Homo sapiens: one gene and its partner. The protein of the gene in region 1 interacts with the protein of each later gene in a pairwise test. Each region holds a gene or a part of one and is shown on either strand. Other genes may lie near its edges.

Evidence for each region. The genes of interacting proteins can lie anywhere in the genome.
Region 2: the proteins of PLCL2 (region 1) and DSCAML1 interact in a two-hybrid assay, tested with the Homo sapiens proteins (one study listed by BioGRID and IntAct).

What each region holds. Positions count from the first base shown.
Region 1 is NC_000003.12:16,880,365-16,887,975, reverse strand, and holds the start of PLCL2 (inactive phospholipase C-like protein 2), read right to left. Parts: upstream 3,022-7,611; 5' UTR 2,937-3,021; coding exon 2,610-2,936; intron 1-2,609. UniProt on the Homo sapiens protein: May play an role in the regulation of Ins(1,4,5)P3 around the endoplasmic reticulum.
Region 2 is NC_000011.10:117,430,196-117,437,222, forward strand, and holds part of DSCAML1 (cell adhesion molecule DSCAML1 isoform 1 precursor), read right to left. Parts: coding exon 6,927-7,027; intron 5,605-6,926; coding exon 5,449-5,604; intron 3,277-5,448; coding exon 3,246-3,276; intron 3,062-3,245; coding exon 2,943-3,061; intron 2,310-2,942; coding exon 2,157-2,309; intron 1,534-2,156; coding exon 1,339-1,533; intron 839-1,338; coding exon 527-838; intron 1-526. UniProt on the Homo sapiens protein: Cell adhesion molecule that plays a role in neuronal self-avoidance. Promotes repulsion between specific neuronal processes of either the same cell or the same subtype of cells.

The DNA.
Region 1 (7,611 bases):
TGCTATTCCCTCAAGTCCCCAATTATCACCTTGCTTACTAATCTACTCCTGCCTCTACTCAGAGACCACCTGACTGCATTCATCCCTTATATTAAAAAAAATAAGGAAACCAAGGAAAGATGTCACTATTGCTTTTTCACATGGGCTTCTGCTTTAGCTTTTTATTCTTTTTTTTTTTAAACAAAAGTGAAACATAATTTCTGCCATTCACATGACAAAACTATCTGTGCAGTATTTGTTGCTTTATGAAATTTGATGTTAAAGACTTTGTTTTCTATTAGGATATTGTCCTGATGCTGGAAGTTATCTTTAGAAAATACCACAATACATTCCAAAAATCTTGATGCTTCAAGGCACCAATTCAAAGGGAAATATACCAAGTAGTTACCTATTTAAATATAGCATCCTCTCTTTCCTATAACCCAGTATTGATCAACTTTCAACACTACTTCCATAATTTTCGAAAGTTTTAAGAAAATGCAAAGTGAAAACAGAGGCAAGAAAAAGGAGTATGTCAAGCCTTCTTTGGAGGTACAATACAATGAACAAAATATGGGACTGGTAAATCCAAAACCAATTGTTTTATAAATTAACAGAACTCAGAGAAAACATGTACTTTCTCCATTCATTCAATAAGCAATTTATTGAGCTGCTACTACATTCCTGGCACTTTATATCTAGGGTTACACTGGTGAACAAGAAGCCAAATGCTTTCTTTACAAAGAAGAAAAATGACAAAATATCCTTAAAAGTTTCAGAATTCAACATAAGTATCAATATCATTTCTAAAATCAGTGATTTTTGAACATTAATCATTTCCCCCATGTGCTTCTAGAGCCTTCAATTAAGAAATGGTATCTATTGACAAGTTCCCAATTCCATATATCAGAAATACTAACAAATCATCCTTCTTGCTTATCGCCCAGTAATGTAAAATTAAAACAAATGTTTTTGTAATTCAGTAAGTTACACTATGAATCTCACTATGGACACTAATAAAGTTTGATTTTTTAATGCAAAAACAAGTATTCAAAACAATTAAAAGAAAGGGGTTAAAATTAGGTAGGCTGGTATCTTCTTTGGAATTTTCACCTCAAATTTTATTAACACCACAATGCAAAATCACCACAAATATTTTATGACAAATAAAAACAGAAATGTCACCTAACTCTGTCAATAGGATTGATTATCATGCACAGTTGAAAGCAACTTCCATGGAAACATAAGCTACAGAGTAAAAGAAAACGTAAGTCACTAAAAGCTATGTATGCAGCAAAAAGACACTTTACTTTCCTTAGTTTATCTCTACGTGTGTGCTGCAGGTAGTTAATACACTTCATCTCCAAACCCTTCAAATTGTGTCCTTGCCCAGACATAAACTGCGCAAACAGATGACAAAGGGAAATGCAGTTTCACAATTGCCTCTTACATAGAGTAGCAAGATGGTATATTTCACTAGATTACTGCATAAGTTGATAACACCATCAGACATTTTCACAGTACTTGGAAGATTTCTGTAGGTCCAATAAAATTTCAGATACCACCACTGCCAACTCTCTTTACTGTGGCACGTTCTGCCCTCCCACCAGTTATCAGCCACAGGAAGGGTGGGTGCAGCCTGTCAATTTGCTTTGCTGCTCCCTGTCCTGATAACTCCTTGATTTTCAGAAAGCAATGTTTTCATTTGCTCCAAACTTGAGCGAGCCGAATGAGCTGGTCTTGCCTAAGGCTCTGCTCTTCTTAGCTCATCAACTATTTTTTTTTGCACTTCATGTCATGAAAAATATTTTTACATTGCGAACCAAAATGTAACATTAGAATGAAACTAACACAAACTCGGGAGTTCCTAATATTACTTCTTGAGTTTAAAATGCTCAAAACAATCGCTGGCTTTCTTCCGCTAACACTGTGCAAGCAAAACCAAGCAAACTGCCCAAAAGAACTTCCACAGTACTCGAGGCCTGCCTACTGCAGCAAGGAAAAAGATTAAATCGTGTGGAACTGTAATCTCTGAGCTTTTGAGCCTAAGAAAGCGGAAATCTGCATTTATGTTCAGAAATCTACTCTATTTTTCTTTGTGACTGAGTGACCGGATATTAGGAGATTTTGCACCCTCGAAGTGTAAACATTTGTAAGAGCCAACTAACTGTATACGGATCAGAAGAACCCTATTAAATAATCTCTGTTCACCCTCTGTTCGCCGCCTGGGATTTTTAAGAAAATGTTCTCACATTTCACATAATCCCTATCTGTGTTTAAGATACAATAGAAATCTTACAGGGAGTCTGTTAACCAGACTAGGCTACACATAAGAGTATGCCCTACCCCGGCAGGTACAAGGCCCTAATGCCAGACCAATCCTGGAAGAGGTGACAGCCCCAAGTTCAACTGAGGATGTCTGAGCACAGCTCCCCCTGCACATTAGGGATCACCTCTCCATTCTTTCCACATGCCATTTGCATCCAATCCCCGCTCAACCACCCCAAGCACCCATGCTCCAGTGGTTCCTGTTAGCAGTGGGCTTCCTCCTTCCACCACCACTCCCCCAGGGAGAAAATAGAATCCAAGGACGGCTGAGGGTGGGCGATGAGCGCCCTTCTCCCACCTACCTTGATGATGCTGCTCCGGCGGGGCAGGCCGCCCGGCTTGCTCTCCCGGGGGAGGGTACAGACGACCGCGCTGGGGGTCGGGGCGAGCGCAACGCCGCGGGGTCCCCTGGTAGGGCTAGCCCGGGCTTCGTCCCCGGACACGCCGAGGCTGCAGTCTCCGTTGGAAACCCCGCCGCTGTCATAGCGCGCCCGCCCGTGGCCGAGGCGACCTCCCCCGCCACCGCCTTCCCCCACTCCGGCTTTCAGGGCGCCCTTGGCGCCGAGGGCCGGGCCCGGGGAGGTGGGCAGGGCCCCGCCGGCGGCGCCCCCCCGGCCGCACTCCGCCATGGGCGCCCCGCGACCCGCCTGCACAAAGCCGCGTCCTCGCGTCCCCGCGTCCCCGCCGCCGCCTCGGGCCGCCGCGCGCGGCCCCTCCTCCTCTCCTCCCGCCGCCGCCTCGGCCGCTTCTTCCGCTTTTTTTTTTTTTTAATTTAGATGTGATGTTTGTTTCGAGCTCTCGCCTTGCGCACGGTTAAAGTCGCGGCGGCAGAATTATCGGAAGATTCCTGCAGGGGAAAGAAGAGAGAGACGAGTCAGCTCCGGCGCCGGCGGAGCCCCGGCTCTCGGCACCTGGGGAAGGAAAACACGCCCCAACACACGCGCCTCTGCGGGCGCCAAAAATAACCCGCGCGGGCCGGGCGCCCACCCCGGGGCAACCCGCGCCCACCTCAGGGGCCCCAGGCACCCACCCCGAGGTAACGGGGCGCCCACGTCAGGGGCTCGGGGCGCGCTTCCCCGGGGCTCAGAGCAACTGGGGTCGGAGCACCCGCCACGCAGGAAAAGGCGCCCACCTCCGGCGAAGGGCGAGGGGAAGTGGCGGCCGCCCCGACACTCTCTGGACACGCGGAGGCGGCTCCCGAGGATCTCCCGGCCCCGGGCGGGCGGGGGGCGACGCGTGGGTCTCTCCGGACCCTAACTCCCCAGAGGCTGCCGCGTGCCGAGCTCTGTCACGTCCCCTCAGAGCCCCGTTAAGGCCCGCGGCGCCGAGAGGAAGCCCACGGCGGGCAGGGGCGGCCGGGTATGACAATCGCCGTGCGGCCCCGGGGCAGCTCCCGGAGGGGGCAGCCCAGACCCACCCCACCCGCCGGCTGCTGTCTCCTCCCGAGCTCGGCGCTGCCCCCTACAGGCCGCGTGGTCCCTCCTCGGTCGCCCCCTGACCCACCATGAGCCGCCTAGCTCCCTGTCGAGATTGCCGCCGTCGCGGCTGCTGTCACCGAGGCCGGGTCATCGGGCCGCGGGGACCTCAAAGCCGAGTGGACGGGAGCCCCAAGTCATTGCCTATCCTTCGCCTCCCCAGAGCTGCTGCAACTGTCAGTCACCCACCCGGAACCCCGAGGGGCAACTACCAAGTAGGCCTCGGGGCCCGGAACAAGGGTCCCGGGGCTCAGGATCTCGGCCGCTGCGCCTCACTCCTGCCCCAGCCCCGCGCACGGAACTCGTTTCCTTCCCACCCAGTTCGGGACACTCCTCTCTGACTTCCCCAGTAGGTCAGACTCATTTCATACACTGGGACCAATTCCTTTCCCTTGGGCTCCTGATTGATTCAACTAGTTGGAAGGATGCTGAGGCAGGGGTGAAGGCTGGGGTGGCTGGCAGGCTATGAGGGGCAGAGGACATCAGCAGAGCCTATTTCGTGCCCTCTGAGTCTCCACACACAGATTTATCATTGAGACCTTCCCGATTCCCCTACCAGGGATGCCGGCTGGCCCTGCCGGCCTGCGGGGCCCAGCCTAAGTCAGGCTCATCTTTTGGGACAGGATCTCACTTGCAGCGCTACAGCCAGTCCCTCTTCTGGTTCTCACGCACCCACTTAAGGCGGAGTGACTGGCCTAAAAGTCCAAGCTGATCGTGTGGCTTCCGTTCGTAAATATCTCCCCTGGATCTCCCTCCCTGGAGCCAGACAAGACTCAAAACTCCGAAGGGTGAGACCCCAGACCTTCCACCGCCACCCCACGCCCCAGGCCTGGGCCCACCCACCTCTCCATCCCAGGCTCCGTGGGCTCCAGCTTCCTACCCTCTCTGGCACCCCAGCCCTTCCCCAACTCGTGTGCTTTCATTTCCAGGAATGCAGTCCCCGCAGGGCGCAAAGGAGAAACTAATAGTCCAGAGGCGGGGTGAACTTAAAGACCTGGCTTTCATTAGCGTGGTGTTGTAACAGACTGCCAAGGAGCCTCTGAGGAAATGGATTTACGTACATATACATACTCGCCCTTGCCCCTGAAGCAACATCAAATACTTTCATGTTATTCTTGGGGGCGTTTTAATTCTTCCGATCCTCTGAATTCGTGTTTTTGTACATCTCTTTCCAACCTGGGCCTACACACTAACAGAAATAGTTTTTTACATCGAAGGACAATGCTTAGTGTTTTATTCAGTCTCAGCTCTTTTCTTTCTTTTTTCTCGTTGTGTTTCAAAATGTTTATTTTTTCTGTCTTGTGATAGTTTTGGAGGAAAAATATTGAAATAATTCAAATCAGGCTCTTAACTCTGCTTTATTAAATTTATAGTCATAGTAGCCTGTGAGTATGCTTCGGGGGAGGAAAAAAGAATGCTGGGGTCTTTATTCTTCAAGTTCTCTAAGTTTGATATTTTGAATAAACACCCAGAGGTGTCTCTGCCTTTTGTGTGTTAGTATCTAATCTTTCCTGCATTTACGAGTCACTAGTAAAATGCTATGAAAGCCATAGATCCCATGGCTCTCACTGTGATTTTCCTGGGCTGAGTAGGGACTTAGTGATGTTTAACCCCCAGTATGCTTTTTATAGAAGCACCAGCTGATTCACCAGTGCCCTCCAAAGTGAGCACCTATCCATCTCACTCTGGACTCCCAACAGGTCATACCAGGGAGCTTCGTTGAAATAGACTTGGCATTTAAATTAAAATGTTTCCCAAAGCATCTTGGCAGACCTGTAACTAATGATGCCAGAGGCCCAAGGCCTGTGCCAGGTTCCCTTTTATTCCCATAAGTGCTTGTCTCCCACAAGCCACTGGTCACACGCCTGCTGATGTTATAGAAGCACTTCTTCATCCCACAAACAGCCCAACTGTAGGTACCCTATCTCAGACATGGTGAAGGGAAGCAGCATGTTCCTCTGACATGTGCGATGCTTGGCTCCCAACAGGCTTTTTATAATAAGCTAAACTCAGATTTTTTCATCACAAATAGCGTAGTAAGTAATTGTTTTTCCTCATTCCTGCTTGTCTCTCTGCAGTCACTAAGTGGTTGCTGTCCATTCCTCATATTCCACAAGCAATATTATTGAAGAAATTGTAAATATTTTGCCAAAATTCTTGCTGAAGTGTTTTCATGGCATTGTGAAATTCGTAGTAGTTGGAGTTAGAAAAAGAGCCAAAATATCATAGTCATTCCTCAGCGAATATTGTCTAATGGTTCCCTCAGATTACATTTCAGAGCAGGGCAATAAAAGATAGGCAAGACATTAATAAAATGCCCATTCTAAATAGCTCCATGATGCTTATGCCAATTTATTTTGTCTGTATGCAAACGGTTGGATTCTGGTGAGTAACCTGCTCATATTTAAAGTAGATACCTTTAAAATCTCATTCTATCATGCCAGCAATACAAGGCTTTATCTCTTTTAAATTTTCTTCGTATTTCAATCCATCTCAGATTTTAATCATTGTCACTCTTCATCAAACTGTCTTCTATTTGCATCATCAATTTAATGCCCAGAACTTGAACTATTCAGACTCCCTGTTCCATAAGAACCTTCCTTCAGTCTCAAAAATAACACTGACTCAGTTTACTGACTTCTTGCCATCATTTATACCCTCGTAGGTTATGAATTCATATCTAGTTTCCAGTTCACAGGCTCCAATATTAGGACTCTCCAACTTTTTTTCTGATTCAGTGAGTACTTGGCCTTCAGATTATTTTCTTCCTTAATGTATTATGACAATTTTCATTTCCCAAACCTCAATCACATGTTATTTCCTCTATTTCTCCAAAGATGCAGTTCAACCTCTGAGCCTTCATAGTCAACTGCTGTTCATATGCTTAACATAAATGCTAACTAGAGCAGAAAGTAGATGACCAAAATGCTTTAAGGAAATAGTAGATTATATCAATGTACTAGTCCACACTGGCAACTCATTTGCTTCCTGAGTCAATCCAAGGGGTTGATTTTAATCTATTATGCTCCTACAGCTTAAATTATATTTATTTTATCATGATCCTCAACAACAAGAAATATGTAGCGATTGATTGCCTTTTTTCCTGAGCAGTAATGTGGCAAGTTAGACCTGCCAAAAGCTTTCATTTCCATATTTTCCTCTCTTCTGACACAAAAGATCCTTCACCCATTTTCCTTGGATCCATCTTCCACAAGTGTATATGGCTGCCAAGAAGTTAGGCACTCAGGGAATTACAGCTATGCTTTTCAGCCACTGAGGAGCTACTTTGCGAGTTCATTAAGTTTTTTCAGTGGCTATTGGTAGCACTTTGAGGGAATCTATTAATCAATGGGAATTTGATAAGATCATTCTATCAGCAAAAGGATACAATATGATAGACTAATATGAGTCCCTCAATTAGTGTAATAACTGTTACTTATTACACTGGTTTTATAAATGCTGTCTCATGTATATGATTGTATGTCTACCACCATTTTATTACAGGAGTCATTGCAAACTCAGATGTGTCTGGGGGCCAGGTAGGTAATGTAATGAGTGAAGTTGGAGGGATTTGTTTCATAATAGCATCATAATTCTTGTTTTTCCAACAACGATATACTTTGCATATCAGAGTAATACTCTTCCTGATTCACTTCTGGCTTTCTAATTTTGATAGGGCCTTGATACAAGAAATATTTCACTTTCCTCTTAACTCTAAAAAAGATGTGTGAGCATACTGATAAATAGCAACTGACACCCAGCCAGGTGTAGTATGGCAACACAGAATGTTAGACTCAGGTACTCTGGTGAGAAATCTTTTGGCTACCTT
Region 2 (7,027 bases), on another chromosome or scaffold:
AGCCAGGCCAGGTCACTGCCTACTGAGAGGTATGACCATGGTGGGTGGAGCTGCCAGGATTGTTTGTTTGGGTCTGGATTAAATTCAAACAGCATTGAGACCAGAGGCCCTTGGGCAGCTGACCCTGAAGGGATCTGTTTCCATCCTGGCACAGCTTCAGATTAAGGGGATGCTCACTACCGAATGAATGAGGCCTTACAACACGCTGGGGATGTATATCATTTCTAATGCCCATTATGACAATGCAAAGTAGATACTATCGTTGGCATTTTACAAATGAGAAACTTAAGGCCACAGAGGTTAAATGACTTGCCCAAGGCCACAGACATAGGAAGAGGTTAAGCCAGGATGTGGGCCCTGATCTGCCTGCTCCTAAGTCCTTGCTGTTGGTACCACCCTGCACTGCCAAGGAGCCAAGCTGGGCTGGCATGATCCTGGTGCTGGCAGAACTAGATCTAGCCAGGGCTCATGGGGCTGGGGCCAGGGGGCGGGGGGGCACTGCCTGGGAGGTGGTCTGAGCACTCACTCTTGTTGGCCCGGTGAGGGATGGGCACAGCCACGTTTTTGCCCCGGTCCGCATCCTGGGGCTTGGGTGGTGAGGCGGTAAAGCGGCAGATGCCAGGCTCTGAGGGTGTGCTCATGGATGTCATGCTGTCGGCGTTCTCGTTGGTGCCTGTGGTCATCTGGTCAGAGGAACTGTCAGAGATGAAGCACTCGGTGATCTCAAACTTGGCGTGCTGCAGCTGCTCCTCCAGCTTGGCATGCTCATAGGCCCGGGCCAGCTCCTCGTAGGTGGAAGAGGCACTCTCAGTGGACACCATGCTGTTCCTTCCTTTGTCTGGGGAGTTAAGAGGAAAGGGGTGGGTTACGGGGAGGAGGGTATAAGTGAGACTGACTGAGCACTTCCCCTGCCCGTAACCCCAGCAGCCATCTGTAAGTCTGGCCATGGAGGGCACCAGGCTGAGAAGATCCCGTGAAGGTGGCAGTGGTGGCAGAAGTAGGATCTTTGGCTCATGAAGGGCAGAACACCTTTCATTCTTGAAAATAAGCAACCATCCCCTGGAACATTCAGCCCTTTCTCCAATGAACATCATGTGTACCATTTTCTCTGACAGTTTTTGGGAAAGCAAAATTAACTCCCTGACTAAGTAGAGCTCAGTGAGGTCAAGTGTTTTTGTCCCAGCTGCACAGTGGGTCAGTGACCAGCTAGACATGAAACTGACTTGTGCCTTGGGCCCCATGAGCTGGTGGGTAGAAGCTGGGAAGAATAGAAGGTGAAGGTGAATGATGGGGAACTGGGGGGAGGTGTTCAGGATGCCAGCAGGGCCTTAGGCACACCTGTGTCCTGGGACAGGCTGGCACTGTAGCTGTCACTCTCAGTGACCGTGACACCATGCTGGGAGCCCACGGTGCGCCAGTCGGAGGTGAGGGTGCGGGCAGGTGTGGAGGCCTGGCACTTGGTCAGGGTCCACTGGCTTGAGTACCGGTTCCGGGTGCTGTGGGCTGACTTCACATTCTTCCTGGACACTGGATCTGCACAGACAGAAGCAAGAAATTGCATCCTCCAACCAAAGGCACCCAGGCTTGGGCAGCTGGCACTTACCAGAAAGGGCAGGGGGGAGCAAGGGAAGAGGCAGATGCAGCCACAGAAGCGCCCTTGGGAATGCTGCCTTTCCTAACCACATCGCTGTCCCCAGAGGAGAAGAGCAATCGAGTCAAGGTTGGGGAGGGGGCAGTGGAGGGCATTCTCCCCGCCCACCCCATCTTTTCCTTCCACCTGGGGGAGAATGTGATGTCCTTTCCTGCTGCCTCCTGACTGTCCATTCATTCCCTACAGTCCTTGATGTGTTCTATCCTATGTCCAGATACACGGTGCTAGAGATAGAAAGACCCTTGGAGAACACGAATACCCAATACTCTCAAAATTTCTAGGTAAGGAAACAGGCCCAGAGAGATAAAGTTAGTGATACGCCCAAGGTCACAGTTAGTAAATCTGCAGTTGAGGTCTCCAGACGCTCATTCCAGTGCTTTCCATTTTTGCATTCTATTCCATTAAGCTCCCTCCTCCCTTTAAAAAAAAACACCACCTCTGTGTCATGCTATGCCCAAGCCACCCCGGTTGGGAAAAGGGCTGTCTCCCTGGGGATAATGCGTACTGGTTCCTGGCCGGATGTCAGACATGTCGATGAGGGGTCCTGTGCTCTGGATGAGGGTTGGGTGGTGCAAGGAGACGCCAGTACAGAAGCTCTGTGGGTTGACAGCTTGGCTGAACTCAGCATCTGTCACAGGGATGGTGGCCTTGTCATCTCCTGGGGAAAGAAGGACAATTACTGGGAGTCCTTTACAATTGTTTTTTAAAGCTCTTTTGGATGTGACTGAATTTCTCTTTGTCTTTATCCAATGTGTTTTTTGTTTGTGGATTTGTTTGTTTGTTTTTTTGAGACAGGGTCTCACTCTGTTGCCCAGGCTTAATTGTGATCACTGCTCACTGCAGCCGCCTCAATCTCCTGGGCTCAAGCTATCCTCCTACCTCAACCTTCTGAGTAGTTGAGACTACAGGATGTGTCATGCCTGGCTATTTTTTTTTTTTTTTGTGGTAGAAATGGGATCTCACTATGTTGCCCAGGCTTGTCTCGAACTTCTGGCCTCAAGTGATCCTCCCTCCTTGGCCTCCCGAAGTGCTGGGATAACAGGCATGACCCACCAACCCAGACTTTATCCAATGTTGAGTCACAGAAAGGCCAGCAATTCCCTCCGTTGGACAGAGGAGGAAAATTAGCCCTTGAGAGAAGCCACAGTGAGTTCTAAGGTTGTTGAGTGGTTGATGGGGCTACTGCCAGAACCCTGGGCACTGCCATGAGGGTTGGTGTTTGACTTCCATGGGTTGTAGCCTGGGGAAGCACACCCAGCAGGACAGGGAACTTGTGGCACCTGTCACTCACCCAGTTGCTTGATGCCTTCTTTGTCCTCGATGAGCAGCTGGACCCTGGGGATGTCAATGTGTAGCCGTGGGCCCTGGGGTGGCCCTTTCACAGGGGTGTCAAAGCTTCTATTGTTCTTGCTGTGGGGAGAAAGACTGGAGGTGGTGGCTCAGCAGCCATAAGGGGTTGGGGAAGGGGGCTCTGCAGGACAGTGGGATTTTAGAAGCCTGCCTCCTATTCTGGGAGTTCAGAGCGAGGCTCCTGGGTCCTCCTCAGGACAGAGGGGAGAAGGGAGGAGAAAGGAAGCAGCTTGGTGATACCCACCTTATCAACATTTCTGCCAAACTCTTTGCATCTGCAAAACAGTAGAGGGAGAGGAGGGCTGGGTGAGAATGAAGTTTGAACAGGATGACAATGGGAGAGGCATGGGAAACAAGGTGGAGAATTCCTTAAAATGGGGCCAGGGCTGGTCTCCTAAGAAGCAGAAGGAGAAATGTAAGGACCTACAAAACAGCCCAAAACATGACGCGGTTTCACTGCTCCAAATTCAGGATTTGGCTCAAGTCTGTTTTCCTTTCTTCAAATTTTATCTAATTGAGAGAACCTTCCCAAAGCACTGGGGGCATAGCAAGTGCCTCATCTGCTTCATGAATTGACTCTGCTTAAACACAACACCATAACAGGCTGGAAATGGATATCAGTGGAAGATTTATCTTCAGTTATATCTTGTGGAGAGGAGAGAGTGGAGGATGTAGTAGAGGTGGTCAATGGGAAGCCCCAGATGATTAAACTCTCATATCAACCAAGAGGCTTCACTTCCTCCTCTGGGGCCTCTGTCCCCAAAAAGTCCATGGATGGATTTTGTGGCCCCTGCTTTGTCTCAGAGGAGCCTTGAATAAGATCAGGACTCTCAGGTTAGGAATTTGGAAGAGAGGAGAATTAAAGGGCCTAGTTAATTTATTAGACCCCTGATACCTGAGAATGAGCTGTCAGAATGAATCCCAAATAGCTGTATGCATGCATCTAACCATCCAATTGTCTGGCTATCCATTCACCCATCCATTGATCCATCCATCCATCCATTCACTGATCTAGCCATCCATCCATCTAACCACCTACCATCCAATTATCCATTCATCCATCCAACCAACCATTAATTCATCATCCACCTATTCAACCATCCATCTGTCTATCCATCCACCCATTGATTCAACCAGTAATCCATTCAACCATTCACTCATGAATTCAACATCCATTCAATCATTCTTATATTTATATGTTAAACCTTACATCCAACCACTCCTTTAACCATTCACCCAATCATTCCACAATTCCAATAGTTTTTCCATCCAGCCATCCATCCATCTTGTCATCCATCGATCTATCAGAATAGTCATCCATCCATCCAAGCATTTGTTCAATCATCTACCTATCTGTTCAACTATTCATATAATCATTATCTGGCCATTCAACAATCCATCAATTTATCCATCCATCCACCCATCTATTCATTCAGCCTTTTATTCAACCATCCTTACACCCAGCCATCTATTCAGCCATCCAGCCATCCTTCTATCTATACATCCTTCCATTCAACCATTTATTCAGTGATCCATTCAACCATCCAACCATGTAACTACTCACCACCCATCTAGTCATTCAATTATCCACCCAATCATCCATCCATCCATCCATCCTTCCATCCATTCATCCATCCAATCATCAACCATCCATTGAACCATCTATTCATCCATTTACCCAATTCCTGAACACAATAGGGAGCATTAGTCATTCCCTCTTCTGTGCTACTATTGTCTCCTGGCTCCTCACATTAGATGATAAACTCTGTAAGAGTATGGCTTGGCCGTTCTTTATTGATCTCTATAGTCTTGCAGTATCTATGATGAAGCAGACCCAATAAAAGTTTTCCAAATAAGTGAAAGTATATTTATGAAGCAACTAGTAGGTGCCAGACACTGTGTTAGGCTGTGGGAAAACTGAGGTAAATCAGACCCATTCACAGTAGACTGTGGCATCAGGTAATGGAAAAAGGGGATAATATTCAAAATATTTAACACCTGACATGGTGCAGAAACTGCCCAGTTAGAACTGAGCATTGTCCTAGAGACTACCTGCAGGTCTATTCTTTAGTGAATGGGTCCTAGGAAAGTTGCAGGGATCCCGTGAGAGGGGATGAAGCATCCAGTGTGGAAAGGAGCAACATCTGTTTACCAACCAACATGGAAATGTTTAAATATTTAACAATCAACATGGCTTTACCAGTGTGTACCTCTAAATATTAGCCCTGACTGGGGCAGGCACAAAGTCTTGGGGGCATAGAGGAGGAAGTGGTGAACGAAACCTTCTGAACTAAGGAGGTTTCAGAAAGTCTGAGTGGCTGCTCCTCCTTCAAGGGGACACAGGCACTCTGTATCATCCAGATGGTGCTGTGAGCCAGGGAAGGGGGGGGACAATGTGGCTGAGAGCCAACACCCCCTCCTGGAAGGCCCATAGGAAGCTCCCCCACCTCGGAGTCGCTTCAGCCGTTTCTCCTTCCTCTTCTTGCGTACGATGAAGAGCAGTGCCACCCCCAGTGTGGCCAGGATGACAGGGCAGCCGATGGTGAACAGCTTCTTCACATCATCCCCTTCACCTTGAGCAGACTTGATGGGTGGAATGGTGCCTGAATGAGGGCAAAGAATAGAATTAGATGTCCCTTATGAGCCAGGTGCTGTGCAGAACATCTCATGGGTGGGGCAGTCCTCTGACCTCTCTTGCTGCCCTTGGGCTCTGACCTCCACCTCCTGGCACAGAACCCTGGACTTCCCCTCTGCTCCCCAAATTCTGGTCCTATCAGGACAGCCATGAACAGTTGTGTAGTTTTAATATTGCATTTTATTAACAAAGTCCTGGTACTGTTGTAGAATTAGCCTAAAGTCTCCTGGAGTTAGTCTCTCGCCTGTTGAAGTTCAGTGCTCATTCCCAGAGAGTGGATTGATGGGCTTAAATTCTGATATCCAGCTGGGGTGGGGAGAACAAAGGGTGAAGCATGGTAGGGAGAAGTCTGGGCAGTGGACCCTGGGTTCTCTTCCCCAGATGGAGACAAAAACCACTACAAACCCTACATTCTCTCCCTGCTCACCCCTCCTGGGGGCCATATCTGTTAACCTGGGGCTCCTGTGGGGAAGCATGGCAAGTTCTCCTGCTGACATAACCCTCTGCCAAGCCCTGACCCTTGCCTGTTTCAGAGCTTTGCTTAAGAGTCACCTCCTTCATGAAGCCTTCCTTGCTTGAGTCCATCCCCTTTTAATACTGCTTTTATTCTGTTTCCTTAACACATAGGTAGACTTGTGACAATGGGCTTCTATGAATTCAGCCTTCCATGTCCCTTCAATGGATGTGTGTGTGTGTGTATGTGTGTGTATGTGTGCACGTGTGTATGTATCCCCATGTGGCAGATGCAGTTAGGAACTGGTAGTATGCCTTTTCTGTGGATCCTGGAGTCTCCATGTTCAAAAAGATGGTGGCCACTCAACCCTCGCAGGACTCCAAGAGAGCAAGAAACAAATCAGTACAGGGTTAAGCCACCAGGTTTTGGTATTTGCGACTGCAGCATAGGCTGTCCCCTCCTGGCTAATATTCCATATCAGCAGAAAGTTCTTAGAGGTCAGGACCTCAACCACACCTCTACCTCCCTTGTCACCTCCCTGAAACAATGCACAGTGATTGAGGACTGCAGCTTCAAAGACTCTCCATCTTTGGTATTACTGACCTATGTGTCTGTCCATCTGTAGTGGCCATTGGTGCATCTGCCCGCTTACCTGGCTGCAACAAACCTGATGTCCCCTTTGTCAGCCCCTTCACCTGCAGGCCAGCATTTCCCCCACCTGCATTCCTGCCTGTTTTTCTATTAGTCTGTCTCTTTATGTATCTGCCACTCTGCCCACTTCCTTCGCACCACCCTGCTCCAGCCTCTGTACCATCCCTTCCACCCTTGCGACTCACTGCCATCGTAGTCCAGGGTGGCGAACTGGGCTGTTTCATTGCCGCAGCCCGCACTGTTGCAAGCCCTCATGCGCAGCTCGTACCACGTGGCCTCTCGCAGT